4 linked regions of the Homo sapiens genome follow. The protein of the gene in region 1 binds, or shares a complex with, the protein of each later gene. Each region holds a gene or a part of one and is shown in the gene's direction. Other genes may lie near its edges.

Region 1 (7,000 bases):
CATTGGTTTTTGAAAGAGCTAGTTGTTTATGTTTTGCATTTTATTGTTTTAGGTTCGTTACCGTGAACGCATCACCATTCTTCGAGGGAATCATGAGAGCAGACAGATCACACAAGTTTATGGTTTCTATGATGAATGTTTAAGAAAATATGGAAATGCAAATGTTTGGAAATATTTTACAGATCTTTTTGACTATCTTCCTCTCACTGCCTTGGTGGATGGGCAGGTATGTGGATCTAAAACTCATTGCTGATTATTTCAGAGAATCTGCTTTCTTTAGTGTTCAGGTGCTTATGACTCTTTCCACTCTTAACACCCCTTTGGGGATATTTTTTAATAGATATTGATAGCATTCATTCAAACTTAAAAAAAATTTAATTTGACAAATGTGTCCAACTTTTTTAAGTGCATTATTCTTTATATCAGGCACTGAACTGTATGGTGGGATCACAGGGGTGGGTGATGTAGCCCATTTACCCTCTCAGACTGTTTTTGGACAAGTCTGGGAGATGTAAGGAGCTAATTATTGGCCTAGGTAGATGTGCACACAAAAGAACTTACAATAAAATTTTATGAGTATGAAGATACTAGTCTCTGGCAAAGGGCAGGAGTGATATCCAAGAAGTTTTCTCAAAGGAGCTGTTTGAAGTGGAGTCTGGTTGTGACAGCGATGGTCTATTAGGAAGAACAGGAGTGTACTCAATAGTTCAGAGTGGGCTGGAGCAAAGATGAACCCTGCAAAGTCAAGTCTCATTCAGGCAGAGCACAGAAACACCAGAGGGGCCAAGTGATGGGGGTGCCCAGCTCATTTTTTAAAATTTTTGTAGAGACACAGGGTCTTGCTGTGTTGCTCAGGTTGGTCTCAAACTCCTGGCCTCAAGCAGCCCTCCTGCCTCAGCTTCCCAAAGTGCTGGGGTTACAGGCATGAGCCACTGTGCCCAGCCAAGAATGTTTACAAATTTTTTAGGTGAGGTTAACCTTTTAAACCACTCTTTTCAGATCTTCTGTCTACATGGTGGTCTCTCGCCATCTATAGATACACTGGATCATATCAGAGCACTTGATCGCCTACAAGAAGTTCCCCATGAGGTATGACTTTTATTTGATAAAATTCTTTCAGAAAACTTATTAGGGAGTGGAGAAGTTTAATTGTAAGTTCATTAGATGTATTCTCTCATATAATTCTCAAAAACAACTTGAGGTGTGAGCACTCTTGTCTGCCCTGTTGTTCAAAAGAAGCTGACATTAAGAAACCTGCCAAGATCACAACAGCTGTGAAGCTGGGCTTATTAGGACCTGGGTTGTCTGTCTTAGACTCTGAAATTTGCATAATATAGGCAGATTAATTAGGGCATGTTGCTGCTGGGTCCCATGGATGTCAGCTGTGTCTCATAAAGTCTGCTGGAAAATACATCTTATTTGATGCAGATGTTTGACTTCAACTGCACAGTCTATTAGCATTGTCCACAAACATCACTCAAAAAGGGTGGCTTAGGGTGCTGCTTCTGATGAATTACTCAAATAATGTGTTAACCATGTTTGTAAAAGGCATTTTATAACTTGAAGTTATTTTTTAGGGTCCAATGTGTGACTTGCTGTGGTCAGATCCAGATGACCGTGGTGGTTGGGGTATATCTCCTCGAGGAGCTGGTTACACCTTTGGGCAAGATATTTCTGAGACATTTAATCATGCCAATGGCCTCACGTTGGTGTCTAGAGCTCACCAGCTAGTGATGGAGGTATGCTGTGTTCTCTGAAATATGACTTGTTTTTTTAGTAAACTTAAGGAAAGAAGATATTAGGGAGTTTTAAATTAATGACATTTGTGAGAAATTCCATCTATTCCTTCTGATGAGTTTATCATTATAGCCTGAGCCTTTTCAGTAGATGCACACTACTAGAATTAAAAGCTCAAGCTTTTGATTACAATGAATCCATTAACATGTTTTCAGAGAAATCTGAATGACTAGGAAGTACTTGAGATTTAAGAGTGGGAAAGTAAGATATAGGGAGTTGGTGTGCATGTATGATATTTTATGATCCCAATGTTATTTCGTATATTTAATGTATGTATGTAGGAGAGACTGGAAAGAAATACACGAAAATGTTTTAAGTGGTCCTTTGGATGCTAGGATTACAGGTGATTTGAAAGAAGGGAAAGAGGCAAAGGTTCTTGACATGGCACACTGATTAGAATATTTTTAAAATAAGGTCCTAATTAGATTAATACTAGTACAACTCTGTGGTTATCAATAAAATCTGACTTTGCTAAAGGTAAAGAAATTGTGAACAATACTAAACAAAAAGTAACAAAAGTAGCTCATGCATTCAGGTGGATGGACTTTGAGGAAATGAGGCTGGAGATCCTAGAGGCATATTGCATTTGTTCCTGGGCAGTGACCAACTTAACAGGCCTTTACCTGTGACTGACAAAATTGGTAAGGTTCTGGTCTCCAGGATTAAGTATCTACTTCTCTAGGGAATGGCCACTTAAATACTTATTCTTAAATCATGTTTTAAGGCCACTGCAAGAGAAGAGGCTAATGAGACATTGTCATTTACAGCAAGGCAGATACATGAGAAGTATTTCATTCTTTGGTGGTTGCTGCTGTTTGTTAAAGCCTTTTTTTTTTTAAAGTACTAAAAAAAAAACAAGTTTTGTAATTAGGGGGAAAATAAATACATGTGTACCTTACAGGTTGTATAAAGTACAGGAGATTATTAAGTCATCCAGAAAAAAAGCATTAACATTTCTTAAGCCCCTTTGGCAGGGGTGGGAATGAGTAGAGATTTTTTTCTCTCTTGAGTGAAGTAACATTTAGTTGAATTGAGGGAGTAAAGTAAGATTTTTGTCTCCTTTTCCTTGCAGGGATATAACTGGTGCCATGACCGGAATGTAGTAACGATTTTCAGTGCTCCAAACTATTGTTATCGTTGTGGTAACCAAGCTGCAATCATGGAACTTGACGATACTCTAAAATACTCTTTGTAAGTAATTCTACCTGAACATTTTCTTGCATTACTGAATATGTAGGGTTTTGGTTTATTTATTTTGAGAGAGAGGGTGTCACTATATTGCCCAGTCTTGTCTCGAACTCCTAGGCTGAAGTGATCCTTTCACCTTGGCCTCCTAGAGTGTTGGGGTTACAAGTATAAGATACAGTGCCCAGCCTGAATACATAGTTTAAATGTGAGGTTTAAGAGTTTAAGGGGGCCAGGCGCGGTGGCTCATGCCTGTAATCCCAGTACTTTGGAAGGCTCGGGTGGATCACCTGAGATCAGGAGTTCGAGACAAGCCTGACCAACATGGTGAAACCCCTTCTCTACTAAAAATACAAAAATTAGCCCAGCATGGTGGCGCCTGCCTGTAATCCCAGCTACTCAGGAGGCTGAGGCAGGAGAATGGCATGAATCCGGGAGGCAGAGGTTGCAGTGAGCCAAGATCGCGCCACTGCGTTCCAGCCTGGGCAACAGAGCGAGACTTCGTCTCAAAAAAGTGTTTATTAAGGGATTATGCTATGTCAGATTCCAACTTTTATTTTTAAGTTTTGTTTTTTTTTTAATGGATCTACATTGAAACACACCAACAGGAACTTATTATATATAGATCTTCGTATGAATTACTAGGTTTTTCACTTTTAAAACCATGTTTTGTGTTTTTTTGTTGTTTGTTTGTTTTTTGAGACGGAGTCTCACTCTGTCACCCAGGCTGGAGTGCAGTGGTGCGATCTTGGCTGACTGCAAGCTCTGCCTCCCGGGTTCACACCATTCTCCTGCCTCAGCCTCCCGAGTAGCTGGGATTACAGGCGTCTGCCACCACGCCCGGCTAATTTTTTTGTATTTTTTTAGTAGATATGGGGTTTCACCGTGGTAGCCAGGATGGTCTTGATCTCCTGACCTCGTGATCCGCCCGCCTCAGCCTCCCAAAGTGCTGGGATTACAGGCGTGAGCCACTGCGCCCGGCCAACCATGTTTTGTTTTGTTTTGTTTGAAATTTCAGTCAAGGTAAAAACCATGTTTTTATAAAAGCATAGTCTCTGTGGCTGAAGTTGCCTTGACTCTTTCAAGGGGAGTACAGTTAACAGACCATTATCATTAAGGTTCTGTTACATTAAGACAAGCCAAAATTGAATAGGAAGTGTAAAGTTTGGAAGACTCATGTTCTTGATCTTGATTGTCACTACATGGAGGTCGTGGAACATAAACCATGAATCGGTCTTGTTTTTCAGCTTGCAGTTTGACCCAGCACCTCGTAGAGGCGAGCCACATGTTACTCGTCGTACCCCAGACTACTTCCTGTAATGAAATTTTAAACTTGTACAGTATTGCCATGAACCATATATCGACCTAATGGAAATGGGAAGAGCAACAGTAACTCCAAAGTGTCAGAAAATAGTTAACATTCAAAAAACTTGTTTTCACATGGACCAAAAGATGTGCCATATAAAAATACAAAGCCTCTTGTCATCAACAGCCGTGACCACTTTAGAATGAACCAGTTCATTGCATGCTGAAGCGACATTGTTGGTCAAGAAACCAGTTTCTGGCATAGCGCTATTTGTAGTTACTTTTGCTTTCTCTGAGAGACTGCAGATAATAAGATGTAAACATTAACACCTCGTGAATACAATTTAACTTCCATTTAGCTATAGCTTTACTCAGCATGACTGTAGATAAGGATAGCAGCAAACAATCATTGGAGCTTAATGAACATTTTTAAAAATAATTACCAAGGCCTCCCTTCTACTTGTGAGTTTTGAAATTGTTCTTTTTATTTTCAGGGATACCGTTTAATTTAATTATATGATTTGTCTGCACTCAGTTTATTCCCTACTCAAATCTCAGCCCCATGTTGTTCTTTGTTATTGTCAGAACCTGGTGAGTTGTTTTGAACAGAACTGTTTTTTCCCCTTCCTGTAAGACGATGTGACTGCACAAGAGCACTGCAGTGTTTTTCATAATAAACTTGTGAACTAAGAACTGAGAAGGTCAAATTTTAATTGTATCAATGGGCAAGACTGGTGCTGTTTATTAAAAAAGTTAAATCAATTGAGTAAATTTTAGAATTTGTAGACTTGTAGGTAAAATAAAAATCAAGGGCACTACATAACCTCTCTGGTAACTCCTTGACATTCTTCAGATTAACTTCAGGATTTATTTGTATTTCACATATTACAATTTGTCACATTGTTGGTGTGCACTTTGTGGGTTCTTCCTGCATATTAACTTGTTTGTAAGAAAGGAAATCTGTGCTGCTTCAGTAAGACTTAATTGTAAAACCATATAACTTGAGATTTAAGTCTTTGGGTTTTGTTTTAATAAAACAGCATGTTTTCAGGTAGAGCTTAAACTAAATGATGTGTTTACTTAGTGCAGTTTCTGGTTATGAATATTATATTGCTATGTGTATATTATATGGACTCTTTAAAATGATTGACAGATTGGCAAATTCTTAAATCTTTGTACATTGTTGAGTCATATGTTCTTAGAGTTAAATTTGTCTCAGATAAGAAAGTGTTAAAGCATTAGCCTGTGTCAAGTTCTTTGAGTGATACTAGTGAAACCAAATAGAAAACTATTGTTGGATCATGATTTAGTCTTATGTACATTCACCCGAAGACAAAAATGGTACTTAAAGTGGCAGTGTTCAACATTTAATGAGTTTTTCCCCTTTTATCCTTCGAATAGGATTAGATGTTTAAAAAAAAGTTCTTCTGTGGGAACTAATATTTGATATTTTAACCTACCAGAGTAAACAGGAACACTTAATCATACTTGTGAGTGTAGTAAATAAAAGTTTTCTTGCTTTGTGCTGTGTTGAATCTGGAACCAACAGGGAAGTTATAGCATATCCCCTTTCTAAAATGCTTGAGGAACACATACATACCGAATGTCTTTTCTGATCTAATTGATAGTATTTTTAGTGGCTTGTGGAGTTAATTTTCCAAAGCAAAAGGCCATTAGGGTTTCTACATTTCATTTCATTTCATTCTTTTCTTTCACAAGAAATACATTCTCTGTGTGTCTTTTTGTTGCTCTGTCACTCTATGCCCTTTCTCTCCGACTGAACAAATAGCTTATCCATGTGCAGTGGTTTTAATACCCAAACAATCTAGACACCAAGCAGCTATTTTTTCCGGTCCTGTGATATCAGAATTGACCAAGGAATACGTATATTGTAATTGACACGTGGTGGTATCTTCCAGGTACAAATTCTCTAAATTTTGTGGTTAGCAGAATGGGACTTGTGATAAGAATAGCTTGGTTTTAGCATAACTAGGGTTTAAAATAATTGTTTAATTATAGAGACTGACCGGGCTTTGGCCATCTAAACTGGAAAGTGTTAGTACCCTACCTTCTTTTGAAAATGGCTATGGTAAGGAAAATGTGTTAGTAAATTATGTATTTTCTTGAAAAATACATAATTATGGTTGGATGGGAATCACTAAGTTGGGTGTTAACTGATGTCTCAATTAGTAACATTAGGATTTTCATTAATAAACCTAAAAAGCTTTCCCTAAGAACAGGCCTGGCACAGTGGCTCATGCCTGTAATCCCAGCACTTTGGGAGACCAGGGTGGGTGGATCCCTTGAGGTCAGGAGTTGAAGAGCAGCCTGGCCAACATGGCAAAACCCCATCTCTACAAAAAATATGAAAATCAGCCGGGCTTGGTGGCATACCATAGTCCCAGCTACTTGGGAGGCTGAGGTGAGAGGATCGCCTGAGCCCAGGAGATGGAGGTTGCAGTGGGCTGAGATTGTGCCACTGTACTCCAGTCTGGGTGACAGAGCCAGACCCTGTCTCAAAAATAAAGAGGATTCTGAGTTTGTATAGTGAGGGCTTGCAGAAATTTTGAAACTTATTTTGTAAGTTTACAATGAATTTGTACATGATGTGCTCATGTCTTGGGTTGAGTATCCTAGACATGATTTTTTCATTTGCTGCATATTAAACATTTGTTGGTTGTAGTCGGTATTTCTTAAATAGAAGTTTGTCAAT
Region 2 (7,337 bases), on another chromosome or scaffold:
ATACATTAATATTGGTGACTAAAAATAACGTACTTGAGTGTCATTTATTTTTACATGGGAAAACGTAATTAAGGAGACAAGAATTGGACAAATGGGCCTTATTCTGATTGTTTCAGTAGCCCAGGATCATTAGTACATTGGCCCTCTGTATCCCTGGGTTCCACATTCATTGGATTCAAGCAACCACAGATTGAAAGTATTTGGAGGCGGGGAAATGGATGGTTGTATCTGTATTGAATATGTACAGGCTTTTTTTTTCTTGTCATTTTCTAAATAATTCAGTCTAATTCATATCGTATTTACACTGTATTAGTATTATAAATAATGTAGAGATTATTTAGAGCATATGGGAGAATGTACATAGGTTACATGCAAATATTGGGCCATTTTATACAAGGGACTTGAGCATTCGTGGATTTTAGTGTTCATAGGGAGGCCTAGAATAAATCCCCCATCCATACCGAGGGATCACTGTGTAAAGAAGGTGGATAAAGGTTATAAATGGTAATTAAGAAGTGCAATTAACTGGAAAACATAGTTGTATGAGTTTAAAAACATTTTTTATTTTCCCTTCAAGATTTTGGGGATTTTAGTATTATAAGAAAACTTGGGGCTTATCACATCCCACCTTCTAAATGTAAACACACTTATACTTTGTCCCCCTGTCTCTTCTATGCTACACATGAAGATTTTAGATAAAGTTGGTTTTGTTTCTGGTTTTCTTTTCTTTTTGTACTTTTGGAGTGGCTAGAGCATAGGCCAGTTTGCAGGATCAAGATAAGGCTATAACTTTTCATGTAATTTTGAGTATTTAACCTATTATGCTCTTTATGGTAACATTCTGTCAGCTAAAACCTCATTAGGAATTTATATCCCCGGTATCTGTACTTCACTTCTGCCACCTTTTAGAGAGTTGTGTAGTATTATGGTGGCTATTTATATTAGCTTCTAAGTAGCAAGGAAGTAGGAATAAAATGTCCAGTGTCTTGGGATATTCTTAAAACCGTCAGCAGTTACGTATACAGATGCAATTTTAGTCTGTCCATATTTGTTACTGAAAATCTTTAAAAGTTGTTACTTGAACTTTAACTGCTTGCTATACTCTGTATTATAGATGTCTATCCTTGATTTGCTAGCTCTCAAATTGTAATAGAATACCATGGTTTTTAAATGCTGCTGACCAATTTTCATTTCTTCTTCCATTTTGTGGGAGATTATATTCATACTTTGTTCACATTCCTTTCAATATTCAGCTTACAAAGAGCATGAGAAGAAGCTATTGAAGTATTTGCTTGGGGAGCCCAAATTTCACTAGAGTGTTTGCAGCCCTTGAATATATTTTGAATATATTAGTTTTTTGTTTTTTTGTTTGTTTTTTCCTTTTTCTTTTCGGTTGTGGAAGGAACAACCTCTTTCCCATTGTTTAGCCCTAGAGTGTTTTAGGGACAAACTATAATACTGTACTAGGATAATAATTTGCTAATCTTTCAACATATTTTATATTGTCGTAGTATTGATTTTTCTATTTTCATTTCACTTTGAAAAATCTTCCCAAAATTTTCTCTCCTTTCTTAAAAAAATTATACTGATATATACTATTCATTAAAAAGTAATTGAGAGTACTATTTATTTTTTCATACAGGTTTAAAAAACGAATGCTAATAGAACAACTGGAGAACTTCTTGGATGAAATTCATCGAAGAGCCAATCAGATCAACCATATTAATAGCAATTAAAAGAAAATAGAATGTGGCCACTTATTTCACTATCTTCTTCAAATACAAAGTAAATACAAGACTGTTGTGATCTTGCATTCATTTTCTGACATGCATTGTTGGCTATTTGAAATACTAAAAGCAAATCTACAGATCCTTTTTCCATCATTTTACAGTGACCTTTTCTTCATTTTGGTTTATTTTTGTAATGTGAAAAGTATCACTCTAAAAAACATTTTTAATTTAACAAACTAAAAATATTCCTCCAAATCTCTTGCTTGTCATTGACTCTTGCGTGTCAATTTCCCTCAGGTTCTATTTTCTTAAACCAACCTTTAAAATTGTCACCTCTGTTAAGGTTGAACTTTGCCAAAAAAAAAAGAAGTTACTTTGTAATTTTTGGGGAAAAAAGCACATACATTAAAACTAGGTAATGTTTTGTATATACAGTTATTTTGGATATATTATTGTAAGTTGTACAAATGTATTTTGAAGAATATTTAAGAAAAGCACTTTTGTTATTCCATCAATAAATGCTCTATTTTACTCTTGTGTGGTTTAGGAAATAATCACATTTAAAGTAATCATTTAAAAACATCCTAAGATAATGGAATTTTAAAGGCCTTGCTTTTTAGCATTGGAAAAATACACCACTTGAAGTTCATGTTTGTTAAGCCTAACTGTAATTACATGTTACATAATCTGCATTGCCTTTTTACTATATGTTCGTAGTTTTTGTTGGCCATGCCAACATACTCCCATTTCTGCCTAGATTATGGGAATGACTTTGTATGGGGCAGATAGACAGATACTTTAAAAGCTATTTAAAAAGCAAACAACTTTGGATATTATTGGTTTCCTTACTTCAACACCTTTTCCTTTATCACTAGGATTGTGGATGGCACGAAGCTGAAGCTGTTAGGGAGTGGTAGGTTTGGAGTACAGTACATGCTCTGAAATATCTAGCCTTTAGCAGCTTCATGCCATGCTTGCAAAAGCCCACAACAAATTGGAGGCCTCCTTGTTCTGCTCTGCTGTTCTCACACTTAAACTCTGTTTTATTTATAAGCTAAATGGAAAGGAAACACCTTTAAGATGACTTTGCTCATTTTGCATCCCCCCTGAGTTTCACAGGATAAGGAAAACCACGCTATTCATTCTCCACCCTCAATTCAACATGGCCTAGAGTATCCGTACTGAGGAAGCAATCTTATGGCCTGACTCACTCACCATTCATGATCACTGCTGTGCCTTTTAGTGGTTTGGGGGGTAAGCAGTAGAAAAGAAGGTCAAAATAGATTTGGATTAAGAGTAGGCAAAATAAACTTATAACATTTAAAAACTGAAGTATTTTTAGGTTTATAATATTGAAAATCACATACCCTTAGCTTTTTACACTTTATCAGACATTTTTTTAAATTTCAAGGGTATAGCAAAATGAAATTATAACTTTATGAAGAAAAGCATTGATGAAAGTGGAGAACATGCATTTAGTCTAGGGGATTTGAAACTCTCCCAATACTGAAGACAAACCCTGTCAAGAAAAAGAAGAATTTAATATTATATAGTATTTTCATATGCAGTTCTTTAAGCTTTGTTTACTTCTATACAAATACTTTTAAGTAATGCAAGATAACATTTAATAGATGGAATTGTTAAGGTAATTGCCTGTAGTCACATTGCTAAATTCATTGAGAGTTACACAAAATCCAGAATATATTGTCTGTTCCTAAATTATATATATTTAGATTCTGGAATTACTAGGAGGAATTAGAAGTCATTCAGATAAAAATTCATACTTAACAAGAGTATCTAGGAAAGAGATTCAGCCCATCCCAATATTGAGCAGCTTTCCTTATCAGAAAGTTTTATTTTCTGTTTCACAGATTGCTCATGACCTTTAATACATTTTTCTGAATGAACCCTGGAGGGAGGTGAGAAGTAGCAGTTTTGTTCATCTCTTCTTTTTGTCCTTTATCTCTCTGCCACTGTTCTCACCTCATCCTAAAACCTGGTCAGGAGGGTTTGAAACCTATCAGAACTAAAGGTTAATATCTCATCTCCCTCAGGCTTTTTTCATTTAAAAAAAAAATGGGTATATTAGTTAAATTAGAATACTTGTTGTAGAATTATTGTCAAAGGGGAAGGGAAATACATCTAGGGGAAACATCATGTCTTTTAGGCCCTTTATGTCACTGAATGACTTAAGGCTCGACAAATGATATTCTTGGAAAGTTTAATCTTGAGGTTTTCAAATCTTTTTTTTTAATGTCTCCCATGTTTCTCATTTGCTGATTGATTCATTAGTTGCTCTTAGTAAGATTTGTCAGTTGGAAATAATGAAGGCTGAGACTCATTTCTAAACTCTTCCATAACCATCACCAGAAGAGCAGCCACTGTGTTGTGTGATGTAGGCTAATGCCTCCCAGATAGAGGTAAAGTCACAAGGACTATTAGAATTCCAGTGGATTGTGGAACTGGTTTTGGATTATCCTTATATTTTCATTCTGATTACTGAGGCAGTTCTGAAAACTCCTACCATTGAAATAGTGGTGTGTCTTTTCCTTGTTTAAGGATTTTACATCATTTTTATGCACTTGAATTCCAAAATCAGAATCTCTCTTTTACCTATCAACCTTTATTGGCTATTGGCTTTTGGCAATGACCTTTCTGTTCAAATGTAGTCCTGTCTCTTTGTTTCCTTAGGGAGTAGAACCTGTCCTTTTTCTCATCTTTCATTTTTTTGACGTGTCCTTTCTAAGAGAAGGCTCTCTGCCGCCTGTTCTGGGTGATAAGTGATATTTTCATCTAATCGTTATGTGGTTGGGATGATCATGGTGAAATACTAGGAAGACATACTCTGTTGATGGACTTTTTCTCTCCAAATAATCCCAAATAGATTATTTTCTAGTGAATGGTTTATATCTTTCTCGTCACAAAAATGTTCCTTTGATTTCTAGCACAAGGTACAGCAGGATGCAAATGATTCTCAGATAAAATGATGTTGACAGTATTTCCTTAACAATTTATGTAAAACTATGCATAATTTTCATTCTAACTTTTGACATTTTTCTCCATAAATAAAAGTAATGCCTGATGTTTAGTTAAAGTAGATCCACCTTTGCTTGATTTTATTAGTCTTGTTCTATCCTATTTCTTTTTAATACACTGTTTAGACTTGCCAACAACTCTTAACTGAGAATCTCTTTTCCTTCCTAGGCTAAGTAATTGTGAGTGGGGGAGGAAGAACATTAAGAGAAATAATCTAAAGACTTTGTTCAATATTGTCGAAGCCTAAGAATATTTGTGTGTCCTTCTGATGTACTGAGGCTTTGCCGGTACCACACCATCTTTGGATTACCATAAGGTTATGTAGTAGGACTTAAAAGTACTAGGGCAAACATTTGATTTTTGAGAAAGATCAACAGAACAGTATAGAAATCCAGGTGCATTCATTAGAATACTAGGATCACAAGAGGACTACTCTGGTGTACTCTAGTGACCTGAAAAAACTCTAAAATGATAAGAAAGCTAGGGGACAAAGGGAAAAAAGGGCAAGATTTATAATTTATTTTACTTTCATGATTTTTCCAAGTGTCTTCAGAAGTAGAAACCTATAGCATTAAAAAAAAAAATCTACATTAACTATATATGAGCTGAGAGAATGAGAAGGTAAAAAACATGGAGGATAAGTTTCCTTTGTACTTACGAAATAGTCCCCTTTCTTAGGATAGAAGATAGCAACTGGGTAGCTTCTGAAGCACCATAAAAACAGCTAGAAAGAATGCTTATTTTTGAGGGGATAGTGGACAAATGAGCCCTTGTTGCTAGAGAGACACTGATAAATTATCTGAATCCTGTCAAAAAATACTGTAATACCTGTGTTAGGTTCTCTCAGGAAATAGATGAATGGCCGATCTGCTTTAAAAATAGGAATCCGAGACCTTTTCAATAACAACAGAGCTGCAGGAAAGAAAGAAAAATTCCATTGCATTTTCTGTGCATTTTTAAGAAAATAACTATTGGTTATGAAGTAAGTTAATTTTTTAAGAAATCAAAGCATCCTAATGGCATTTGATTGTTTACTGTTGTGATGGGGGTGCAGATGGGAAAATTAAAGAGAAAAGATGCCATTTAGCCAATCCTGTCTCCTGTTTTCAACACATTCCATGGAATAAATTCCTTATTGAAGGTAACTTTCAGAATTATTTTTATGGGATGGATATCTCTTCTTCCCCGTCATTTTTCAAAAACTTTTTGTTTTCTTTAGTGTTCCTTTTTAAAAAATACTACACCACACCTGAACTTGGGGGTTATGGAAAGATTCAGAAGTGTGAAGATTCAACTAGGTAAATTTCAGAAAGGTAGATATGGGTAAGCAGTGTGACTGGGTATTCTCTGAACATACCTGTGGCTCCAGATGCCTTGGTGCCTTCCTCCAAAACTTCAATCTTGGCCTTGTGGATTGCTTCAGAAACATAAAAGCCATCTTGGCCTAACCACAGAAAATGATAAAAATGTGAGTTGCTCATTAACATTTTTCTAACACATTTAGAACACATTCTTTAAAAATGTACTTACAAAATTTATAGTATCCAATGCTGCTTACTGTGTAGCTAGGGAAAGAGTGGAAAATTCTGTTTTTGTTTTTACTGGAGGCTCAGGTAGCTGTTTGGAAAATTCTTAAGACTCAATATGTTACCAAACTTTAATTTGTTATATATATTTAATTTGTTAAAATATGTAATCGCTCCCAAAATAATATTCAGAGCACTGCCCCATTTTTTCAGTGGTTCATTTTCAGAAATGATTCTAGTTAAAACTACAATCCCTCCTTCAGCCAGTATTTCCTAAACTTCAGTGATCATAGGGTATGTGTTAAAATGCAGATTCTGTAGCCCGGGAATCATTTTCACCAAGCTTCAGAGATCATTTCCCTTGAATGCCTTTTTGGACTGCACTTTAAGAGCCACTTTTAAATGACAAAGTCACAGGTTTTTATTACAGGCTTTATTGAGGCACAATTCAGAGTAATATGAATGTGTCTAGTGTTGCATGACTGTATTCTGTATACTTAGGTGTATCAGTTATGCAATTAATTTGCCTCATGGGCTAGAATCTACAAAGCAAATGAGAGGTTAGTATAAATGTTCTATGTGCTAACAGTTTCACAGATTATAAGTTTAGCAAATAGGACTAAGTGATAATTTAGAGGAATTGGCTGATTTTTGTAAGCTAATCATTAACCATTTTTAAACAGCTCCAAAGATGAAAGGATACTTGATGACACAGTAAAAAATGAAAGATTTAGAACCAGAAGAAACTTAGGAAATCATTCAGTCCAATCCTTTCATTTTAGAGTGAGCTGTGAACTCACCTGAGATCACACATTTGAAAAGCAGAGTTGAGAATATTCTGATTGAAAGCCCACTCCCATCCCACCCCTCTCCTCCATTCAAACACTGCCGCCTTTCAGAAAGTGTATGCTAGTCAGCTCCAACATGCCACTGGGAGGTATCTGTGGCATGAATGTTAAAATGATCAGTTTGATGAACACATATTGTGTGAGGGAGCTTTGTTTCATCTTAGACTAACGCTTAAATTGGTTTGTGTTTGTCACGC
Region 3 (9,875 bases), on another chromosome or scaffold:
TCTCACTATGTTGCCCAGGCTGGTCTTAAACTCCTGATCTCAAGTGATCCCTCCACTTTGGCCTACCAAAGCGCTATGATTACAGGAATGAGCTACCATGACCAGCTTTGACTTAGTCTTTTGACTAATTCATGTTTATATAAGAAAGCTGAGATTTTATAAGTTAATCTGACCTGAGACAGAGTGAAGCTGGCTGGTCCCTTTGGAAGACAGAATTAACTATTAGTTATCTGCCCTATTAGTTAATTAACCAAAACATTATTAATATTATCCTCTTCTCATAACCATTAATGGAGAGAACTCCATGTGACACAGTAACTAGAGGGTAAGACTGGACCCACAGATGTTTTATATGCTATACAGATTACTTTAATACTGAGCATTTCAGTGACCAGCAATGTATTTACAGTCCAGGGCTAGGATGGAAATTGCTAGAAACAGGCTCACTCTGCATCCCAGCATATACTTAGGTATCAATGAATGTGAAACATCTTACCCAGTACCTGACACCCTGTAGGCACAGAATACATGCCAGTTTCCTTCTACAGAGCCCAACTGGAGCAGCCACTATGTTCTTGCAACTCCTGCAATACTAGAATGGCTCAAATAGGAAATTTCTTCCTCCAGTCTCTTGAACAATGACTGCTCGTGGTGAAGGAAGGGCTTCTCACCTTGGGTATCACCTCTTGGTAATAATTCTCCTTTTTTTAAAAAAACAAACCAACAAACAAAACAAACAATGCTTTATAGTTTTCTCTTTTCTCTTTCTTTCTTTCTTTCTTTCTTTTTTTTTTTTTTTTTTTTGGAGACAGAGTCTTCCTCTGTCACCCAGGTTGGAGTGCAATGGTGCAGTCTCGGCTCACTGCAGCCTCTGCCTCCCAGGTTCAAGCGATTTTCCTGCCTCAGCCCCCTGAGTAGCTGGGATTACAGGCGCATGCCACCATGGCTGAAAATGTTACAGGAAAGGGTCTCAATCCAGACCCCAAGAGAGGGCTCTTAGATCTCTCACAAGAAAGAATTCAGAGCAAGTCCATAGGGTAAAGTGAAAGTAAGTTTATTATGAAAGTGAAGGTATAAAAGAATGGCTGCTCCACAGGCAGAGCAGCTCCGAGGGCTGCTGGTTGCCCATTTTTATGCTTATTTCTTGATTATATGCTAAACAACGGGTGGATTATTCATGCCTCCCCCTTTTAGACCATCTGGGATAACATTCTGGTGTTGCCATGGCATTTGTAAACTGTCATGGTGCTGGTGGGAGTGTAAAAGTGAGGAGGACAAGAGGTCACTCTCATCACCATATTGATTTTGGTGGGTTTGGGCTGGCTTCTTTACTGCAAACTGTTTTGTCAGCAGGTTCTTTATGACCTGTATCTTGTGCTGACCTCGTATCTCATCCTGTGACTAAGAATGCTCTAATATCCTGGGAATGCAGCCCAGTAGGTCTCAGCCTCATTTTACCCAGCCCCTGTTCAAGATGGAGTTGCTGTGGTTCACACATCTCTGACAAAAATACAGGTGGGATTATTCTCATTTTACAGATGGGGAAGGAAAAAAAAAAGAGAAGTGCATGAAGACACTTCTACAGCTTCTACTCTCTACTGGATTGTGCTTTTCGCAAAGTTTCCTAGCAAGTTAGAGTAGTGAGCTCTCCAGCTGTGCTTCTGCTCCTTCACATTTGGGATTCTTTTTCCTTCTAGATCTGTATATTCTGTCTTATGCATGCCCCATTCCATTAGTTAGCCATTTTTCTTTTTCAAAAATTTTTTTAATTTGATTTTTTTTTTTTTTTTTAGAGATAGGGTCTCGCTCTGTTGCCCAGGCTGGTCTCAAATTCCTGGGCTCAAACGATCCTCCCACCTCAACTTCCCAAAGTGCTGAGATTACAGGCATGAGCCACGGTGCCTGGCCCCTCAAAGTTAGCCATTTTCTTATTGGCTATTTTTCAAATTAGGTTGATCCCAACTTTACACTATTGAAAACACCATTGCCTGAATATTATCATACACCTATCTTTATCTAAATCTGATTATTTCCTTAGAATCTATTACTAGAAGTGGAATTATGGAACCAAAACCCTCCCTGTTCTAAATTTAGCTGAAAAATGTTTTTCCCCGGGTGATACAGCTTATGATAGGCACAGGAAGATAGGTAGGAGGAAATAGCAGTGTGGTGGTTTTGGATTAATTTATTAATTTACAACAAAGACTTTTTAAGCACCTACTAGGTTGGACCTCAGGGGAAATCACTGGAGAGTTGTATCACAGGGACTTTCTGGACTTGAGCCTGGGGTGTAAAGCAGGCAATATGTAAAGCTGGAGAGACAAAGATGGATAAAATGCCTTTAAGGATTTCACAGTATAACAACAGATAATAGTAAGAGTTATTATTACGCAACACTTCTAAGATGTCTGATGAGTATCTCAAACTTGATGTGTCCAAAACTGAAGTCTTGATCTTTCCTCTAAACCTGTTTTTCTTACTCTCGAGCTTACTTATTTATGAAAGTGATACAGCCATCCACTCAGTTGCCCAAACCTAGATCAAGGGGGTCATTGTTTATTTCCCCTACCCAGCTGATAAGATTCCAGCAAATCCTGTCCCCCTACCTACACAATATAGAAATATCAACCCAATGCTCCACTCTGGTACAAGCACCATCATCTCCATCTACATGGTCCCCTAACATGTCTTGCCTTATCCACTCTTGCAACTCTCCAATCCCTTCTCCAAAAGCAGCCAGATTGAACTTGTAAACATCACACCATAACATCTCCCTGGTTAACACCCTCGAATGGTTTTCCATTTCACTTAGAATAAAATTCAAACTCCTTCCCACTACCTTCAAGGCCCTGCATTCTTCTGGTCCCTGCATTATCATTATATGGCTCTATCAATTACTATCCCTCCCTTGGCTCACTCAATTCCAGACACTAACATCAGGGCTTTTGCATTTAGCTGTTTCATCTGTCTGTGTGCCCTTCCTGGAACTTTGCAGGGCTTCTCCTCACTTCTTTCAGAACTCATCTAAAATCACACCCTCAGGCCTGCCTTCCTTGGGCAGCATGCTTATATTATAGCCACATTCTCCGCCTCCACCAACCCCTGCCCCCCGCCCCACTGCCACCTTTTAACCTCTCAATTTTTGTTACTTCTGACAAAGATTCTCTTCTTTGGCCAAAACTCTAGTCAGGCTCCTGTGAGTCCTCTGCCTACTAGGACTAACCGTTTGGGCTTCCTTTCTGTCCTTGTTGAATCCAGTTTGTGCAGGGACTCTCCACTCTTGGCGTCTTAATCCATTTTTTGTTGCTATAACAGAATACAAAACACTGGGTAATTCATAAAGGAAAGAAAGTTATTTTTTGCAGTTCTGGAGTCTGGGGAGCCCAAAGTCGAGGGGTTGCATTTGGTGAGGGCTTTCTTAAACTGCATGGTAGAGAGCCTCTCACGGTGAGAAAGCAAGAGCATGTGTGCCAGCTCAGATCACTCTTCCTCTTCTTATAAAGCCACCAGTCCCATCACAGGGGCCCTACCCTGACGATTTTATCTAATCCTAATCACCCCCTCAAGGCTCCACCTCCAAATACCATCAACATATGAACTTTAGGATTGAGTTTCCAACGTATGGAATTTGGGGGACACAGTCAAACCATAGCACTCGGTATCTGACCACCCTCAACATCTTAGCACCCTGTCCTGCTTTCAGCAATAATCCTGTTAGGTCAGTTTAGCAAGAAACTTCTTATCCTTGATGTTTCTCTTAGTAGTTTTCCGTCCACTGACCCTCATCCTGCTCTTTGGTTATAAATCCCCACTATATCTTGTTGGAGTCAGAGTTGAGTCTAATTCCTCTTCTTCACTGCAAGATCTGGTTGTAGTGGTCCCTGTAACTATCACCATGGGCTCTCTTACATAAAGTCTGCCTTACCATCTTTAATTAGTGCCATGAACAAATTTTCCTTTAACACTTTTCAGCATTTATTTCTCTATATTTGTCTATTGTTTGTCTGACCCACCAAGCACTGTTATGTACCGTGACTGCAGACACTTGTTCCTCATTTTATCCCACTGCTTGGTGCACAGGAGACATTTATTAAATGTTTGTTGAATGAATGAATGACAAGCACTTGTCACAACGGTAACTCTGTGAAGACTAGGATCCTATCCATTTTGTTCATTACAAAATTCCGCCTAAGCCTTGAACAAGGCTATGAGTTATAAGTGCAAAGCGATTTAGAGGAAGGAGGGGTAACTAAACTGACTGAAGAAGCTAAGGGAAGCCTCACAGATAAAATTACATCTAAACTGAAACTGAAAGGAAGGTGGAAAACTAAAAAGATCAACAAGGGAAGGACTGCAGACAGAATATCGCGAGGTATTGGTCAGCCAAGATGGCTTCTAACACTGGCCGCCACACTTAATATGGCGGCCAGGGAAATTTCCTGGAGAAAATCACGCGAGAGTTGCATCACGGCGGCTGTGCGCGAGTTAAGCTGGGGGTGTGGAGCAGCCAAGATGGAGCCGGCAGTCGGCGGTCCGGGCCCACTGATCGTGAACAACAAACAGCCCCAGCCCCCGCCACCTCCGCCGCCGGCAGCCGCACAGCCACCACCCGGGGCACCGCGGGCCGCCGCGGGCCTCCTGCCTGGGGGCAAAGCCCGCGAGTTCAACCGCAACCAGCGCAAAGACTCAGAGGTCAGGAGCTTCGGGGGGCGAGGCTCGCACCGGGTCGGGCGGCGCCGGGGGTCCCGGGCCCGGGGCCACTCTAGGGGCCAGGTTGGGCTTCCCGGAGGGCTCGGTAGAGTCCGGCCGAGAACTGTCACTATACAGCGAAAGGAGCAGGAAGCGAGGCTGGCAGCTCCTGGGGTCTGGAGCATGAGTCCTTGCTCTAGCTCCGCCGCCCGGGAGAGCTTCCCGTGGCCGGCGACTGCTGGTTTGCTCCCCTGGGCCCCGACTGTGGGCGTGGCCTCGAGGCCCTAGCCCCTGGGGAAGCCGCTCTCGCCCCAGCTCGGGGGTGAGGAGTCGGGGGTCTTGGTGCACTCCAGGGCGCTGGGCTGCCGCGCCCCCAACCTAATCATCTCGGGCGTCTGTCCCTGGCACGCGGGCTCCAGCTCCTGGGTCCTGCCGCTCGCAGAGGAAGGCGCGTGTGGGCAGGGAAGGCGCCGGCGAGGATCTGGAAGGAACTTAGAGCCGGACCGAGCTAATTATCATTGAGAGTAGAGTAGGAGGGGGAAACATGTCCTGTTCTTCTGACCTGAGCCAGATCAGGCCATGGGTTAACAGTACCTGTGGTGGGCTATTGTGCCCAGTGCGCCTGATACTGAACTGTTAAAGATGAGAAATAGACATTTTAAGCATGCGTTAGGACCCAACATTCCTTCCTGTCTCGCTAGTGAGCCGTTCCTGCCGTTCTGGAGATGGCATAGTCTGGAACTGACTAGTAACCTCACCCCAAGTTAAGGAATTCCTCCCACTGCCTCCTTTTGCAGAATTCATGAATGAAGATACTCATGTCGCGGAGTTTTAGGGCTTCTTAATGAGCAGGTTCCCAGAGCACTTACTATGCCATCTCCTAGATTGATCAGCAGCCAAACTGATCAGCCAAGTTAATGAGAGGGAATTCCTAGTTGTCCAAGCATAATGTACCAATTCATACCAAAGAGCAATGATACTACCTTTAGACCTGTGGAATCAGTTCCTCAGAAGCTTTTATTTTTTGTTAGCAAGGCTAAACCCCTGAGAAAACATGTCAACAATTGGCAAGCCCGAAGTAGACGTAATTTGAGCTTGGAGTGAATTATTTGAAAAAAACAAAAACACTGACCATTTAGGAGCCCTGGCATGGTGGGATGACGGACATCAGTGTTAACTACTCAGTTTTTCAAGTGGAAGATTACGAAAGTGCAGGGGGGTGAACCTACCTTCATCATGAGAGGAGTTATCATTTTGAAAAATGGTTTAAAATTTTCCAGAGTAGCTACGAATGGTCAAATAGATACCCTCTGACGAATTGTAATTTCTCTTTGTACCCTTTAATTTCCACATAGAGGCCGGGTGCAGTGGCTCACGCCTGTAATCCCAGCACTTGGGGAGGCCGAGGCGGGCGGATCACCTGAGGTCAGGAGTTCCTGTCCAGCCTGGCCAATGTGATCAAACCCTGTCTCTACTAAAAATACAAAAATTAGCCGGGCGTGGTGGCTGGTGCCTGTAATCCCAGCTACTCAGGAGCCTGAGACAGGAGAATTGCTTGAACCTGGGAGGTGGAGATTTGCAGTGAGCCGAGATTGCACCATTGCACTCCAGCCTGGGTGACAAGAGCGAAACTCTCCCCGTCTCAAAAAAAAAAATTTCCTCATAGACTCATTACATGAAAGACCAGTCAAATGGACACATTTAAGCAGAGACCTGTCTAAATCCATTTCTTTATAGAGAGTCTGATGCCATGATCTTTCTTTAGTCATAGCTGAAATCGGTAGTTTGGGAGCCTGATCAGTGAATGCCTGGAGGACAGGGAGGCTCACATTTGATGAGAGCCCACTATGTACTACATAATTTTGATTAGTCCTTAAAAATCTTCAAAGTAGATTTTCATCATTGCCATTCAATGAATGAAGAAACCGAAGCTCAGTAACTTGTGAAAGTGTACACTGTGTTATCTCTGAACACAACGTGGAGTTCTTGTTTGTGGGTATGTTTTTTGTTTTGTTTTGTTTTGTTTTGAGACAGAGTCTCTGTCTGTCTCCCAAGCTGGAGTGTAGTGGCGCGATCTTGGCTCACTGCAACCTCCACTTCCGGGGCTCAAGCGATTCTCCTGCCTTAGCCTCCCGAGTAGCTGGGACTACAGGCACGCCCCACCATGTAAAAATATATTTTTAAAAAATTTTATATTTTTATTAGAGACGGGGTTTTACCATGTTGGCCAGGCTGGTTTCAAAGTCCTGACCTCAAATGACCCGCCCACCTCGGCCTCCCAAAGTGCTGGGATTATAGGCATGAGCCACCTCGCCTGGCCATTGTGGGTATGTTGTGTCATTTTGTGGCTGGTCTTTGTCTTCCCAGGTAGACTGTAATTAAACCTAAGGACTTTACCTATTTGTTTCTCACTTCTCTCTTCCCAGTACAAGGCTTCCAAGATGGTGTGTTCTCAGTAATCACCTATTTCCAGCAGGAAAAAGATTGTCTTTGTCACATTTTCTCTTATGTGTGGGAGGGAAGTTGATCTGTTTGGCGGCTGCCTTCTTTGTCAGTTCTCACTGAAATTTGAGACAAAGGTGGGAAAGCTGAGGGTTTCAATACTCATTTTTGTCCTGAGCTGTTGACAGTCCACTAGCCAGAAAGAAGTTAAGACTTCTGGAATCATAGCATCATATGGAATGGTCATTTACTGCACAAAATACATAGAAACCTTGTATTTATTCATTTAACAAATATGTGTGTATAGACCATTCATTCATTCACTTATTCATGCCAGGTACCATGCTGGACCTTGTGAAATCATTGGTAAGTTAAATGGATGATGTTCTTGTTCTCAGGGAACTTACAGTCTTGTGGAAAGGCAGACAGTAAACACATCCTATAATGATAAGTTATGATAAATGCTCTGAAGGAAAAGTATAGGATACTCTGAGAGGTTTTAGGAAACAAAATGTGAAAAAACATAAAAAAGTGGAGGCAGTGGTGTCCTGTAACACAACAGCATCTCGAAGCATGAGTTTCTTTGATAAATAGAATGATCCTTTTTCCTAAAGCTCTCTCCTCTTGTCAGCAGGGCTATTCGGAGTCACCAGACCTGGAGTTTGAGTATGCTGACACAGACAAGTGGGCTGCAGAGCTCTCGGGTAACGCACAGACCTTTGTGTTATTTGGGGGTGGTTTTTTCCTTATTGGTCTTTAATAAAATTAATAATGAATATCATTTAGGGCTTCATTGCTTTCCCTAGTTCTATCAAATATATATATATATATATATATATATATATATATATATATATGTATAAAACATGTTATTTGATTCAAGCCTTGTGTATCTTATAACTTTGTGTTGTCCTTTACTTTTATGAAGCTGGCTAGAGCCCAGTCCCATTGTGAGACAGTGATGTTCCTTGGCTATCCACTGTGACCCTGACAGTGGTCTCTCCTCCAGCAATGGGTCATGAGGGATGCCTGCATCTGTGCCCATCTGCTGCTGCCACTGCCACTCTCATGTAATGCGAGGTCGGTGTGAGCTGCTTCTCCAGCCTCTACAATACACATCCTGCTCAAGAGGTAGCAGCCATTTGAGAGATGCATCCCAGGTGGCCGTCAGCCCTGGCATGGCATGGTGGGATGGATGCACATCGGACTGGAAGTGTCCAGATGGCATTCTGGCACTCTGGTTGTCTCTATTGTGCACATCAGAGCACTAAGATCCCCTTCATAATTAGAGAGCTTATTCCAGGAGTCACTATGACTCAGGGGCAGAGTTGAGAGTGGAAGCAAATGCCTTGCCTTCTCTGCACTTGTGAGACCTGGTGTGCAATGCAGACATGGAACCAATGGTGACGAGACTTTGTTCTGACAGAGCTTTACAGCTACACGGAAGGGCCAGAATTCCTGATGAATCGAAAATGCTTTGAGGAGGACTTCCGGATCCATGGTGAGATGATTTCCCACACTTCTTGCTTCCTTTGCCCTGCATAACGAGAGCTGCAGGTTTCTTTTAGGCATCTGAATGACCTGAGTCATCCTGGAACAGCCTGAGAAGCCTGCTGAACCCTGATGGTTCAAAGCCAGATACATGTAGAGTGGGCTTGTGGCACATCGGTGGGGGCTTTTCAGAATGTGCATATTAGGGGAGAAAAAAAAATCATGTGATTAAAATTGCACCCAAAATACCAGCGTTTCAGTTTGGAATCAAATTCATAGAGCAGCAGTATGATCTTACCACTTACATAGGGTGTAACTTATCTTTCTGGTCCTATGGCAGTCCTGAATTTGGTGAGTTAACATGGGTCCATGCCATTGTGAGGATTTTTCTAGGCTCAGGTGTAACTGGTTTCTTGCCCTGCAGTGACAGACAAGAAGTGGACTGAGCTGGATACCAACCAGCACCGGACCCATGCCATGAGGCTCCTGGATGGCTTGGAAGTCACTGCCAGGGAGAAGAGACTCAAGGTGGCTCGAGCAATTCTCTATGTTGCTCAAGGTATTGAGTGGACCTCCCCAGGGTTCCCTGGCACCTCTGCCCACTCAGATGCAGGGAGGGGCTCAGTGAGTTGAACCCTGCATTGCAGGCACGTTTGGGGAGTGCAGCTCGGAGGCAGAGGTGCAGTCCTGGATGCGCTACAACATCTTTCTCCTCCTGGAGGTGGGCACGTTCAATGCTTTGGTGGAGCTTCTGAACATGGAAATAGAGTGAGCATTTTTGAGAGGCTGAGTAGGGAAGGGGAGGCTGGGATGGGAAGGGGGACAGAGCTTGCAGAACTAACTGGCTTTGAGAGGGTTAAATGGGGCAGAAGTTCTGGTCCCAGGCTGTGTTCTGACCACCTGGGTTGAATAACGGAGTTGGTCACTTACACCTTGAAGATTAATGGAGACTAATGACAGGTCCCTGCAGCTCCCTGATGCCAGAGTTTTTACACCAGACAGTGCAGGCCCTGCCCAGGCCTGGGGTGCTCCTCAGAAGGAGACTCTTCACTTTGAGCTCTCTTTTGAACCTGCAGACACTGCTGTGTTCGCCCTGCAGTTTCCGCCTTGGCAGGAGGCCAGGCACAAGACTGACATATGGGCTCAACCAGTGCCTGGCCTTGCCTGTGTCACCTTTGTCCAGTGGACAGGTCAGCTGCTGCTCATCTAAGGATAACACCATCAATGATAAAGCTAAGACAGCTCATTGAGTG
Region 4 (5,415 bases), on another chromosome or scaffold:
ACAGGTCCCTTCCTCTCCATCTCCCACCAAACTAGGGCACCATTGATTAGACAAAGGTACAGTGTAACTTGGGTTTCTGACAGCAACAACAGGACTGTGAATTGTTTAACCTCTGTGGTTAAAGCTACAGCTTGAGTTGACTGCCTTGGGGATGTCAGTTAATTAAGGGGTGATGATTTGCAAGAGAAAATTAGTGGAGAGTCACATAGGTAAATCATTATTTAACTTAGGTTTTCCTAAAGTTAGAATAGTCGAATGTTCTTTTCTTTACCTTTACAATTAAGACAAAATGTTTAATAAGAATAGCAAAAATTTTTTTATATTATGCATCCTTATACCTCACATATCTTCCTTAACTAGATAGTTTGACAGAAAGAATGGCATACAAAGAGGAAAGGGGAAAAATGACTCAGAACAAGACAAAAGCTCTGACTGTTTAAAGTTATCGCTTACAGAGACTTTAACAATTTTGTGGAATTTTTACAACTATGAGAGTAAATGGAACTGGTCAACTCTTGACAGTTGCCTCAAGATGGAGTGAAATTGCATCGAGGGTAAGACTGTGTCCACAGGTTTAAAATTCTCTCTTCTGAGTAATAGTGTTCATGTGCTCCCATTCTCGACCCTGTTGTTGAAATTCAAACTTAAATAGCCTGACTTCTTGTTGGGTAACTTGCCCTGCCTCCAGAGGTATTTGAACTTCATTATCTTCAACACAGGAATTGTTAATCTTCTCACTTCACCTGTTCTTGCATTAGCTCAATTGATGTCATCACTGATTTCCTAAACTAGAAACTATGGAAGCATCTTTGACTTTTCCTTTTCTCTGTTGGATTAGCTTAATCACCAAGTCCTGTCAACTTCTGAAATGAATCTCAAATTTCTTCCCTTCTCTATCTGTTGCCCCTGATTTTGCCTTAAGTTCTTGCCTGAGTGATCTCCCAGCCTGTCTTCTGTCTCCTTTTGGTTCAGTCTTTATACTGCCTCTTGAGTAATCTTTCTGAAATTTAAACTTGATATTTTTCGCCCTCTTGCTTGAAAACTTCACTTGCTTCCCCATTTCCTACTCTTTAAGGAATGATTTCTTTAGCCTCAGATAGAAGGACCTTTATGATCTGGCCATATTCTGAAATAGCTTCAATCCTCTCCTCATCTCTGTTCCAGTATACATCTTTCCTTCTTATTCTGCAAACATTAGACCACTTGATATTCTTTAAATATGTCATGTACTTTTCTTGTGTCTGTTCTTTGGGATAATTCCTATCCTTTTCAGGGAGGCAAATTGCACGTGAGTTTAAGTATGAAGGCAATGTATACCTGCTGATTGTAAAATATTTAAACATTGTACATATCTGTGTGGTTTTAAAAGTCTGCTTTTAATTATGTAAAATTCATCTTCCCTTTCCACAGATAACTTCTGTTAACAACTTGATATCTATTGTACAAGATGTGTTACTGGCATTTCCATGTATATATGTATATAAATGCAGGAAACCAACATGTCATTGACACCTCTCTTCTTTACTTTTCCCCATATCTAATCATTCCTCAAGTCTTACTGATTTTTATCAGCTAGAATCTATCTCCTTATTTCTACCTCTATTGCCACTCTGATCCAGGCTACCAGCATTTCCCTCTTAGGCTTCTGAAGCAACTTCCTAACTCCCACTTGTGCTCCTCACACTCACTCTGGTCGGCTATCCATTCATTCTCCATACAGCAACTAGAGTCATTCTTTTAAAATTGCGGACCTGATCCTTCCATCTCCCAGCTGAACGCTTTTCATTTGCTTCCTGTTCTCATGAGTATGCCAAAATGTATTAATTCTGGGCTAGGAGGCCCTGAGGAATTTGGTCCTTCCCTCCTCCCCCCTCGTTTTCTGTGCTTCGCCCTCACTGGCTTGCCTTTCTTTTCCTTAAATACATCATGTTCTCTCCTATTTTAGATCCTTTTCCCCGAAGGTATGGAAACATTATTTCTGTAAGCTTATTCTTCTATATAGATGGGAAGTTTTTAAATCAGATAAGGTTCTAAGGGCATGTGGACAATTTACGTTATCATAGTATTGTTCATAACGTCCATCATTATTCTGTAGACTGTAAGGGCTTACTTAGCTCGTGTAAGAATTATCCTTCAAAAAGCATTTTTAAGGTATTAGTATTGCTAATCTATAAACTTTGTGCAAGAAGTCCTAAAGTCAATAGCAACATTTATTTAAAGTACAGTTTGTCATACTTAATAAACCTCTGGTATATTTTCCTTTATTATGCTTGTTAAAAACACAGTATAAATGGGAGAAATCATTAAAGATCATTAACTCCAAGGCTGCTGGATGTTAGGACCCTTAAGCATACTTAAAAGATTGATTGTAATCAAGAATAACTTGTATCAGATTGCCTTCCAGTGATTCACATTTATTAGTTCAACCAGTTACATACCTGTAGCAAGAGACCAGTTTATTTGGCAATAAAATTGGGGAAGGAATCAAGACTTAAATGAGGAAAGTGAGTCTGAGAACATTTTTTTTCAGGGTGTGTTTATAGATTAGTAGAACAATTTTGAAGATCTAACAGAGGTGGGAGTCAGGGGAATGGTTGCCAGACAATTGAACCAAGAAGATGATGATCATTTCTTGAGTAGCACCAGAGAACAGAAGAAAGAGTTGGCCTTGGAAAGGAGGTCTGGAAACTTATTTTTCTTCTGAAACAGGAGGGAGAGTGAAAAGGCTAGGCAAAGATATCCATAAATGTTGAATTGATTTGTTGTTGCAGGGGTTTAGGAGTATGGAGGTAGGTATATGAAAAGTAGAATTTGTTTCTGATTGTGCCTATTTTCCAATTATTGAGGAATCTAAGATACATGAGGATAGGGACAGGAGATCATTTGGAAGCTTGAGTGCAGTAAAGGTTTAATGTTGCCTCTGAGAATCTAAAGGAGTAAGTTAAGGACAAGTAGAAGGCTTATTAGGCTATGATGGATGCCAGGTTGCAGTTGGATGGCAGGCACAAGGAAGTGGGTTGGATTGACTAGGTTTGGGAATTGGTTAAGTGGGTACTAGGTAAAGCCCAGTGTGTGAAGTAGTTAAGGGTTCTGCTGAAAGTGTAGTTTGAATGATTGGCTGAGGCATTGAGGATAAGAGAAGGGAGCAGAGGCTTATGGACTAGACCACTTTTTTCAGGGCTTTACCTTATCAGCCATGACAAAGTATAGAGAATCTGGTCTCAATGTAGGTCTCTCACTCCAGCAGTTTTGCCCACATTTTTCATGGCTGTTAGAGAATCAGGGCTGAAGGCAAGCCTTGAGTGCCACTTACTTGGTAAAAAATTGTGTCAGATTGCTCACTGTAGCCAAGACAGAGTTCTTTGTGGCTTCTGTAACTTGCCATCCAAGTAAAAAAATTTTCTTAAAAGTTGAAATGACCTTTGTATAAAAAGTAATAAAATACTTGCTATGTGTCAGGGACTGTTCTAAGTGCTAAGCAAATATATCAATGCATTTAATCTATCACTATCATCTGAGGCAAGTGCTATCATTATCCTCATTTTATAAATGAGGAAATGGAGACACAGGTTGAGTTACTTGCCCAGGATTCCAGAGCTGGGAGGTAGGCAGCGAATTGTGGTGGTTAGGAATATAGACAGTGGAGCAGGGTGGCTGTGGTGAGGATTGAATGGGTTCGTACACAATGTGCTTACAAAGATGCTGGGCAATTAGCATCCTTGATGGATGAAACTCCTGCTTTCACACTCAGTTAACAGTACAATATCCTTCAAAGCAGGCTATCCTTTTATGAAGCGATTGTTTCTGATGTTAGCCTTTCTTATAGTGAACAGACATTTCCCTCTAACTTCCACCATTCAATTCAAGTCCACCTTTGGCAAATGCAAAACAAGCCTTATTCTTCTTTTTATAGGTGATAGCCCCCTTCTAGAAATCAGAAATACTGATCCTTCTCTAATGACTACTTCTTCCTTCCAGATTTTAGAAATCTTGAGCTGTGTCTTCAGTATGCTGTCTGTGAAATAAGGCTATCATTGCGTGGCAGCCAAGATTTTCACCAGATTGTGATTCCCTTATGACCATTTGCCTTCCTGGGTAGGAAGTGATAAATGGCCTGATAACGTGAGTTTTTGCCAGTAATAATAATAATGATGTGTTAATATTTCTTGAGCATTCACTATGGGTCCAGACACTATTTTTAGTGCTTTACATTTATGAGTGTTTAAAATCCTCATGACAACCCTGTGAGGCAGGTGCTATGGATTCCCATTGAAGAGATGAGAAAACCAAGGCCATTTTCTCAAGTCCCTATTACTGTCTATTTTTTTTCCTTTTGAATTTAGGCCCTTTTGGTTTTTTTATTATTATTATTATAAACTTTTTTTTATTATTAACTTGAAGACCATTTCCCAGCTAACTTTAGCAACTTGCTTTATTTTACTAGTGCTGCTACTTCTGTTTTGAATCAAATGATAGGTAATCATTCCTTAAAACAGTATTATATTAAAGGAACATACCAGGAAGTTTTTTTTTTAGTAATAGGCAAGAAATTAAAGTGTATAGAAGGAAATCATGGTTCCACAGCTTTATGTATTTTTTCCCTATAGCATTAATTTTATTCAAAGATTTAGGGGAAATTTTTTGTTTTAGAACGAAAAGGGACTGGTAGCTAACTGTTGTAAATACATGGTAGAGTAGAGTACAAAACAAAAGTCTATGAGGAAATGACCACTTACCAAGCAGCTTCACGGAGCAACCATACCCTCCACGGTAACCATTCTCTTAAGGCGATTGATGGAAGAGTTTCCAACCGGAAGGTTGGGATTCAGTACCACCCCCGCATGGACAAATGCAGATGTGAGATCACTCACAGCCATGTCTACCTTCATGGAAAATGAGTCGGCCCTCTCCAATACCATGACACGCAACCTCTGGCTGCACTGCGGTTATGGGATTGGCTTCTCTCCTACTTTTGCGGTTATGGGATTGAAACTCTCCTACTTTTTAGAAAATCCTGTGGAAGGATCAGGTAATAGGAAAAAGGCTGGTGAATTCTGTAAAGGGAAGTGAGTAGAATTGAGTTGGGTTAGGGAAGGAAGCATTTTAGGCAGCCACCATGGAAAGAAGGCAGGCCACCTTCTCACTGACGATGAGACCCAAGTGCTAAAGGCCAGCAACAGGCAGTGTCTGAAAACTAGTCTGATATCATCACAGTCTTCGAGGGAAAATATGATTCTACTAGGGTTTTCATGTCAATAGTGGACTCGAATTTAAGAAGTCTCCAGTCCTTTTGTAGAAGTACAAGTGTTTTTTATATATGAGCAGAAGGACCAGAAAGAAACCAACTCTTCTTCCCATCCCTCCTTAATACAGAATTTATTTACTTTTCTTGCCAATCTTTCATTTAAAGATGTC

Evidence for each region.
Region 2: the proteins of PPP2CA (region 1) and INTS6 are in contact, whole or in part, in a cryo-EM structure (PDB 8RC4), measured with the Homo sapiens proteins. Residues at the interface, in NP_002706.1 of Homo sapiens: Arg89, His118 (codon at 92), Val126 (codon at 116), Tyr127 (codon at 119), Pro172 (codon at 1,027), Trp200 (codon at 1,599), Pro203 (codon at 1,608), Asp204 (codon at 1,611), Asp205 (codon at 1,614), Arg206 (codon at 1,617), Gly207 (codon at 1,620), Gly208 (codon at 1,623), Trp209 (codon at 1,626), Ile211 (codon at 1,632), Pro213 (codon at 1,638), Arg214 (codon at 1,641), Gly215 (codon at 1,644), Tyr218 (codon at 1,653), His241 (codon at 1,722), Gln242 (codon at 1,725), Leu243 (codon at 1,728), Val244 (codon at 1,731), Met245 (codon at 1,734), Glu246 (codon at 1,737), Tyr248 (codon at 2,873), Asn249 (codon at 2,876), Trp250 (codon at 2,879), Cys251 (codon at 2,882), His252 (codon at 2,885), Arg254 (codon at 2,891); in NP_036273.1 of Homo sapiens: Leu20, Gly21, Thr22, Asp26, Lys29, Gly30, Glu33, Lys78, Asn79, Gln81, Asp575, Glu576, Asp577, His580, Ser581, Val582, Pro583, Ile584, Ala585, Met587, Gly588, Asn589, Tyr590, Tyr593, Leu594, Met626, Met627, Ile628, Asp629, Glu630.
Region 3: the proteins of PPP2CA (region 1) and STRIP1 are in contact, whole or in part, in a cryo-EM structure (PDB 7K36), measured with the Homo sapiens proteins. Residues at the interface, in NP_002706.1 of Homo sapiens: Thr40, Glu42, Ser43, Asn44, Ser171 (codon at 1,024), Pro172 (codon at 1,027), Ser173 (codon at 1,030), Ile174 (codon at 1,033), Asp175 (codon at 1,036), Thr176 (codon at 1,039), Asp178 (codon at 1,045), His179 (codon at 1,048), Arg181 (codon at 1,054), Ala182 (codon at 1,057), Leu183 (codon at 1,060), Asp184 (codon at 1,063), Arg185 (codon at 1,066), Leu186 (codon at 1,069), Gln187 (codon at 1,072), Glu192 (codon at 1,087), Gly193 (codon at 1,578), Pro194 (codon at 1,581), Gly208 (codon at 1,623), Trp209 (codon at 1,626), Gly210 (codon at 1,629), Ile211 (codon at 1,632), Tyr218 (codon at 1,653), Ile224 (codon at 1,671), Thr227 (codon at 1,680), Phe228 (codon at 1,683); in NP_149079.2 of Homo sapiens: Gly421, Leu422, Pro426, Phe436, Lys443, Phe444, Pro460, Arg461, Pro462, Ile463, Glu465, Ser466, Thr469, Leu470, His473, Arg726, Lys730, Met733, Ser737, Tyr740, Gln741, His745, Arg746, Leu747, Asn748, Asp749, Trp751, Ala752, Tyr753.
Region 4: the proteins of PPP2CA (region 1) and PABIR1 are in contact, whole or in part, in a cryo-EM structure (PDB 8SO0), measured with the Homo sapiens proteins. Residues at the interface, in NP_002706.1 of Homo sapiens: Arg89, Gln122 (codon at 104), Val126 (codon at 116), Tyr127 (codon at 119), His191 (codon at 1,084), Trp200 (codon at 1,599), Pro213 (codon at 1,638), Arg214 (codon at 1,641), Gly215 (codon at 1,644), Ala216 (codon at 1,647), Leu243 (codon at 1,728), Met245 (codon at 1,734), Tyr265 (codon at 2,924), Cys266 (codon at 2,927), Arg268 (codon at 2,933), Cys269 (codon at 2,936); in NP_612206.5 of Homo sapiens: Asp95, Leu96, Ile97, Arg99, Glu100, Thr101, His103, Glu104, Arg105, Val107, Gln108, Met111.

Annotation. Positions count from the first base shown.
Region 1 is NC_000005.10:134,195,074-134,202,073, reverse strand, and holds part of PPP2CA (serine/threonine-protein phosphatase 2A catalytic subunit alpha isoform), read left to right. Parts: intron 1-52; coding exon 53-226; intron 227-999; coding exon 1,000-1,089; intron 1,090-1,566; exon of another isoform or gene 1,567-1,577; coding exon 1,578-1,739; intron 1,740-2,869; coding exon 2,870-2,988; intron 2,989-4,229; coding exon 4,230-4,302; 3' UTR 4,303-7,000. UniProt on the Homo sapiens protein: Catalytic subunit of protein phosphatase 2A (PP2A), a serine/threonine phosphatase involved in the regulation of a wide variety of enzymes, signal transduction pathways, and cellular events.
Region 2 is NC_000013.11:51,360,151-51,367,487, reverse strand, and holds the end of INTS6 (integrator complex subunit 6), read left to right. Parts: intron 1-1,642; coding exon 1,643-1,736; 3' UTR 1,737-3,205; coding exon of another isoform or gene 3,206-3,249; 3' UTR 3,250-5,490; coding exon of another isoform or gene 5,491-5,678; 3' UTR 5,679-5,911; downstream 5,912-7,337. Other genes in the region: SERPINE3 (serpin E3 isoform 2 precursor), read right to left, coding at 5,491-5,678, 6,124-6,210. UniProt on the Homo sapiens protein: Component of the integrator complex, a multiprotein complex that terminates RNA polymerase II (Pol II) transcription in the promoter-proximal region of genes.
Region 3 is NC_000001.11:110,030,126-110,040,000, forward strand, and holds the start of STRIP1 (striatin-interacting protein 1), read left to right. Parts: upstream 1-4,498; 5' UTR 4,499-4,512; coding exon 4,513-4,692; intron 4,693-5,283; exon of another isoform or gene 5,284-5,314; intron 5,315-7,765; coding exon 7,766-7,835; intron 7,836-8,557; coding exon 8,558-8,632; intron 8,633-9,046; coding exon 9,047-9,181; intron 9,182-9,269; coding exon 9,270-9,390; intron 9,391-9,698; exon of another isoform or gene 9,699-9,812; intron 9,813-9,875. UniProt on the Homo sapiens protein: Plays a role in the regulation of cell morphology and cytoskeletal organization. Required in the cortical actin filament dynamics and cell shape. Part of the striatin-interacting phosphatase and kinase (STRIPAK) complexes.
Region 4 is NC_000009.12:68,782,105-68,787,519, forward strand, and holds the end of PABIR1 (PPP2R1A-PPP2R2A-interacting phosphatase regulator 1), read left to right. Parts: 3' UTR 1-3,462; downstream 3,463-5,415. UniProt on the Homo sapiens protein: Acts as an inhibitor of serine/threonine-protein phosphatase 2A (PP2A) activity. Inhibits PP2A activity by blocking the substrate binding site on PPP2R2A and the active site of PPP2CA.